Linked DNA regions of Homo sapiens. The protein of the gene in region 2 binds, or shares a complex with, the protein of the main gene of each other region. Each region holds a gene or a part of one and is shown on either strand. Other genes may lie near its edges. A codon is read from its position in the direction of its gene.

Evidence for each region.
Region 1: the proteins of H3C15 (region 2) and ASF1B are in contact, whole or in part, in a crystal structure (PDB 5BO0), measured with the Homo sapiens proteins. Residues at the interface, in NP_001005464.1 of Homo sapiens: Asp107 (codon at 653), Leu110 (codon at 644), Cys111 (codon at 641), His114 (codon at 632), Ala115 (codon at 629), Lys116 (codon at 626), Lys123 (codon at 605), Gln126 (codon at 596), Leu127 (codon at 593), Ala128 (codon at 590), Arg130 (codon at 584), Ile131 (codon at 581), Arg132 (codon at 578), Gly133 (codon at 575), Glu134 (codon at 572), Arg135 (codon at 569); in NP_060624.1 of Homo sapiens: Val45 (codon at 376), Ala48 (codon at 385), Ser50 (codon at 391), Glu51 (codon at 394), Asp54 (codon at 403), Thr87, Asp88, Val90, Val92, Thr93, Val94, Leu96, Arg108, Gly110, Tyr111, Tyr112, Asn114, Glu116, Leu140, Asn143, Arg145, Thr147, Phe149.

What each region holds. Positions count from the first base shown.
Region 1 is NC_000019.10:14,123,090-14,126,589, reverse strand, and holds part of ASF1B (histone chaperone ASF1B), read left to right. Parts: intron 1-352; coding exon 353-468; intron 469-3,500. UniProt on the Homo sapiens protein: Histone chaperone that facilitates histone deposition and histone exchange and removal during nucleosome assembly and disassembly. Cooperates with chromatin assembly factor 1 (CAF-1) to promote replication-dependent chromatin assembly.
Region 2 is NC_000001.11:149,851,108-149,853,625, reverse strand, and holds H3C15 (histone H3.2), read right to left. Parts: upstream 1,019-2,518; 5' UTR 972-1,018; coding exon 561-971; 3' UTR 501-560; downstream 1-500. Other genes in the region: H2AC19 (histone H2A type 2-A), read right to left, coding at 2,120-2,512. UniProt on the Homo sapiens protein: Core component of nucleosome. Nucleosomes wrap and compact DNA into chromatin, limiting DNA accessibility to the cellular machineries which require DNA as a template.

The DNA of each region.
Region 1 (3,500 bases), on a different chromosome or scaffold from region 2:
TGAGACAGGAGAATCGCTTGAACCTGGGAGGCAGAGATTGCAGTGAGCCAAGATCACACCATTGTACTCCAACCTGGGTGACAAGAGTGAAACTCCATCTCAAAAAAGAAAAAAAAAATTAGCTAGGCGTGGCAGCGGGCACCTATAATCCCAGCCACTCGGGAGGCTGAGGTATGAGAATCACTGGAACCTGGGAGGCGGAAGTTGCAGTGAGCTGAGATCGCATCACTGTATTCTAACCTGTGTGACAGAACGAGACTCCATCTCAAAAAAAAAAAAAAATACAAGAGCCTATCCCTGCCTTCTTGCTGTTGAGCTATTTCAATTAGTTAACCCTCCTATATCTTTGCAGACCTGGAGTGGAAGATCATTTATGTTGGCTCGGCTGAGAGTGAGGAATTTGATCAGATCCTAGACTCGGTGCTGGTGGGCCCTGTGCCAGCAGGGAGACACATGTTTGTCTTTCAGGTAAGAAAGATGAGGCCTTAGGCCTTAGCCCTTGATTCCTAGAAACATCCTCTTTTACCTGAAATCCCACAGAGTGCTTCAGGAATCAAAAGTTCAAGTTCAGCTGGGCACGGGCTCACGCCTATAGACCCAGCTACTCCAGGGACTGAGGTGAGAGGATTGCTTGAGCCCGGGAGTCTGAGGCTGCAGTGAGCCACTGCACTCCAGCCTAGGCAACACAGTGAGACCCTGTCTCTAAAAAAGAAAAAAACAAGTATTAAAAACATAGAGGCCGGGCACAGTTGCTCACACCTGTAATCCCAGCACTTTGGGAGGCCGAGGTGGGAGGATTGCTTGAGGCCAGGAGTTTGAGACCAGCTGGGGCAATATAGTGAGACCGCATCTCTACAAAAAATGTAAAAATCAGCAGAGCATGGTGGTGTGCGCCTGTAGTCTCAGATACTTGGGAGGCTGAAATGGGAGGATCACTTGAGCCTGGGAGATGGAAGCTACAATGAGCCAAGACCACACCACTGCACTCCAGCCTGGGCAACAGTAAGACCCAGTCTCAATCAATCAATTAAAACAATTTAAAAGTTCAGGTTCAAATCCTAGTTCTACTGTCAGGAACTATCTGACCTCTCAGAGGCCGTCAGGCCCTCCCTTCCCCCACCTCTGTGTCAAAGCTGCCACTGATTTACAGGCAATTCCCATTATTTACAAGAGTTACGTTCTATAAAGTTGCCGCGAACACTGAATTAGTGAATACTGAACCATTGCCCCAGGGGAAATACAGGGTTAGATTCTTGGAAGTCACATTTTCGTCAGCTGGTTAATACGTAAACTTGTATGTGTGTTTATGTTGAAAAGACACCAGGACGGCTATGATGGCTCAAACCTGTAATCCCAGCACTTTGGGAGGCTGAGGTGGGTGGATCGCCTGAGGTCAGGAGTTCAAGACCAGCCTGGCCAATGTGATGAAACCCCGTCTCTACTAAAAATACAAAAATCAGCCAGGTGTGGTGGCGCATGCCTGTAATCCCAGCTACTCGGGAGGCTGCGGCGGGAGAATCGCTTGAACCTGGGAGATGGAGATTGCAGTGAGCTGAGATCGCACCAGTGCACTCTAGCCTGGGTGATACAGCGATACTCTGTCTCAGAAAAAAAGGAAAGATACCTTATTTAATATATACAGTGGTTCATTTATGTTGAATTCACAGCCAACAGCACTATAACTCTCCTGAATGAAACTTCTCTAATACGCATATTTTCCATAAAGCCTTTCTTGTATCCTACACTGCACTTCAGCACTACCGTTGGGTGCCATCATAGACAGCAAACTCACCAACAAAAAGCACAAAACATGGAAAAAAGCACTAAGTAGGCTGAGGAAAGGACGCTCATTCACAGTGAGAGCTGAGACCAGAAGACAGAGTGTTGCCTTGTTTGACCTCAGGTGGGAACAGGCGTGGTAGGTAACTCTAGGTGGGAACAGGCATGGTAGGTAACTCCAGTTTTTCCCTGCTCTGTGCATGTCTGCAAGTGACTGTGAAAGCAAGCAGGTGTTCATCTTGGGGTTACAAATAAACTTAGCAGGTAGGTGAACTTGCACATATGGAACCCATGAATAATGAGGATGGACTGTAACTCCTAAATGGCTCTCATGCAGCACCCCACCTGGGTTGTCAAATGTAGATTCTGGCCGGGTGTGGTGGCTTCCAGCACTTTGGGAGGCAGAGGCGGGAGGACTGCTTAAGGCCAGGAGTTCCAGACTAGCCTGGGCCACATAGCGAGACCCCCATCTCTACAAAAAATAGAAAAATTAGCCGGGTGTGGTGGCTTGCACCTGTCGTCCCAGCTACTTGGGAGGCTGAAGCAGGAGGCTTGCTTGAGCCTGAGAGTTTGAGGCTACAGCGAGCTATGATTGCACCTCTGCACTGCATTCTGGGTGACAGCGAGACCTGTCTCTACAAAAAAAACATTAACCAGGCATAGTGATGCAGGCCTGTAGTGCCAGCTACTAGGGAGGCTGAAGCAGAAGACTCACTTGAGGCCAGGTGCCATGGCTCACACCTGTAATCTCAACACTTTGGGAGGCTGGGGCAGGCAGATCACTTGGGGTCAGGAGTTAAAGACTAGCCTGGCCAACATGGTGAAACCCTGTCTCTACTAAAAAATACAAAAATTAGCTGGATGTGGTGGTGCACATTTGTTATCCTAGCTACTCGGGAGGCTGAGGCACGAGAATTATTTGAATCCAGGGGGCGGAAGTTACAGTGAGCTGAGATTGCGCCACTGCACTCGAGCCTGGGCAACAGAGTGAGACCCTGTCTCTAAAAAAAAAAAAAAAAAAAAATAGGCTCGCTTGAGCCCAGGAGTTCCAGGAGTTTACAGTGATCTGTGATTGCACCACTGCACTCCAGTCTGGATGACAGAGGGAAAAGCTATCTCTTTAAAAAAAGAAGGCCGGTGCAGTGGCTCACGCCTGTAATCCCAGCACTTTGGAAGGCCAAGGTGGGCGGATCACAAGGTCAGGAGATTGAGACCATCTTGGCTAACATGGTGAAGCCCCATCTCTACTAAAAAATACAAGAAATTAGCCAGGCCTGGTGGCGGGCACCTGTAGTCTCAGCTACTCAGGAGGCTGAGGCAGGAGAATGGCGTGAACCTGGGAGGCGGAGCTTGCAGTGAGCCGAGATCACGCCACTGCACTCCAGCCTGGGTGACAGTGAGACTCCATCTCAAAAAAAAAAAAAAAAAAAAAGAAGAAAGAAAAAACAAATGGAGATTCTGAGTTCTCCAGGTGATTTTTCAGGATCCTCTGCTCGGATACACTCCCTTACCTCCATCACTGCTGTTACCGCCCTAATCCAAGCTACCACATCCTATCTAACCCCTTCAGCCACCACTACTAAATCCACTGACAGGCCCTATCTACTCAACAGTCAGGACTGGCCTCCTGGGTGTGCAACCCAGGCAGCTGCACAGGACCCCACACTTGGTGCGATACTCTGCTGTCACCGTCTGAAACCTAATAGCTTTTCTGGAGGGGC
Region 2 (2,518 bases):
GGGACTGAACGGCAGCCCCAGCGCAGTTCTCCCCACGTTTGTCCGCAGAACCCCGGCGAGGCCGAGGTGGTCATTTCCCTCCCTAGCCGGATGGCCGCGCCGGGTGAGGCCGGTTTGGGCGCGAAGCACGGGCGTGTGGCGCTCCACTTCCGCAAAGGCCAGCCGCGCTCAGGACCGCGAGCCCTGAGCGTCCCCCTAGTGACCCCTGGCCTCGTGCCCGACGCCCCGTCTCTCCTGCCCCGGCCCCCCCGCCACGCAGGGCCCCGGTCACGCGCGGGGGGAGCCGGACCGCCAAAGCCCGCGAGCCGGCGCCCAGGAAAGCGTCCGCAGCCCGGCCAGTGCGGATAGGCCAATTGGCCGAAGTCGGCAAAGCTCAAGACGGCACCGCAGCAGGGGGACCCGACCCCGTTTTGTTGGGAGCCTAAGCGGAAGTGCCTTCCCCGCTCTAATGCCGGAGGAGCACGGAGGGCAAGCGGTACAGCTTCTTCCAAGTGCTGATGTGGGTGGCTCTGAAAAGAGCCTTTTGGATACGATGGAACCTCCGGCCGAACCGCCACTTCTTAAGCCCGCTCTCCACGGATGCGGCGGGCCAGCTGGATGTCCTTGGGCATAATGGTCACGCGCTTGGCGTGGATGGCGCACAGGTTCGTGTCTTCGAACAGCCCCACCAGGTAGGCCTCGCTGGCCTCCTGCAGCGCCATCACGGCCGAGCTCTGGAAGCGCAGGTCCGTCTTAAAGTCCTGCGCGATCTCGCGTACCAGCCGCTGGAAGGGCAGCTTGCGGATCAGCAGCTCCGTGGACTTCTGGTAGCGCCGGATCTCCCGCAGGGCTACGGTGCCGGGCCGGTAGCGGTGCGGCTTCTTCACCCCGCCCGTGGCCGGCGCGCTCTTGCGGGCCGCCTTGGTGGCCAGCTGCTTCCTCGGGGCCTTGCCGCCGGTCGACTTGCGAGCAGTCTGCTTAGTACGGGCCATAGCGAACCAAAACACAGGCTTACCAGCGCAGCGGCGGGGAGAAAAACGAGCTCCTAGCCCCGCCGCAGCCGTCTTTATAAGCACAGTCTTTTCCCGATTGGGCGGAACAATAATTGAAAATCCCGCGCTGGCTGTCCATTGGCTGTGACGTCACCCGTCCTAAAGTCACCGGTTGGCTTGGGCAGATTCCTCCCTAATCCCGCCCACCCCGCCTCACTTTCTACTTACCAGTTGGCGAAGTTTCGCAAGCTTGTTTTTCCCCTTTCCTTCAGGGTGAAAGTCATTTTCCATTGCAGCTTTGTCAGATTGTTCCCTTTCCGCCCTTCGCTTCCTTAGAACACACTGCCCGCAATACCCCCCCTTTCTTGCTGCGCCCTACAGCTCCCGCGTGGAACCTCATTCTTCCATTTGCCCCCCGCCCCCAGTTGCTACTTGGCGGATCGTTTTTCGCCTGTCGGGTGCCTTTTGGGTGGGAGAGGTGCCCGCCCCCAGGACGCAAGATTCCGCCTCCGAGGCCCTTACTCTCCGCCGCCAGGGCGCTTTGGAAAACAAAACAGAAACTAAGACTTAAGTCAGCTCAGTGAAGCCAAGACCCAGCTCCGCCACACTAGCGAGCACTACCCGCTCAGGGCCCTCCCCATCGGGGGTGGGGACGAGGAGCACGTCCCGCTGGTGCCAGACTAGGTCTAAGTGTCCGGCCATAGCCTGCGGAAACCACTAGGGAAGCGCGCGCTCCGCGCGCAACACTTCAGCGCGTTGGGTACTGCCCGCGGCGCTGGTGTTTGTGACTGTGTGGAGCGGACCGTGGCGGCGCCCAGGACGTTTGGTGCCTGCACCTGCCCTGGGAAGTCCTAGGACTGGGGACCCACTCATCGAAGAGCCAAGGCAGTTACGTGCTCCAGATGGAAGACGGCGCGCACACACACACACCCCGCCCCGCCCCGCCCCGTCCCGTCCCGTCCCGTCCCGTCCCGTCCCGTCAGCTCCAGGTTCGCTATTCACTACTGAGGAACGCTGGACTGAGAGTGGCCAGCATTAACAACTCTTTTATTTGAAAACGTGGGTGGCTCTGAAAAGAGCCTTTTGAGTTCACAGGTGCCCCTTCGAGACGCGGGCCGGGCTGGGCCCACTTGGGCCGGACGTCAGCCTCACTTGCCCTTTGCCTTGTGGTGACTCTCCGTCTTCTTAGGGAGCAGTACGGCCTGGATGTTAGGCAAGACGCCGCCCTGGGCGATGGTGACTTTGCCCAGCAGCTTGTTCAGTTCCTCGTCGTTGCGGATGGCCAGCTGGAGGTGACGAGGGATGATGCGCGTCTTCTTGTTGTCCCGAGCCGCGTTGCCCGCCAGCTCCAGGATCTCGGCGGTCAGATACTCGAGGACCGCAGCCATGTAGACGGGCGCGCCGGCCCCCACTCGCTCCGCGTAGTTGCCTTTGCGCAGCAAGCGATGCACTCGCCCTACCGGGAACTGAAGGCCAGCGCGGGACGAGCGCGACTTGGCCTTGGCGCGGGCCTTGCCTCCTTGCTTGCCACGACCAGACATGACAGC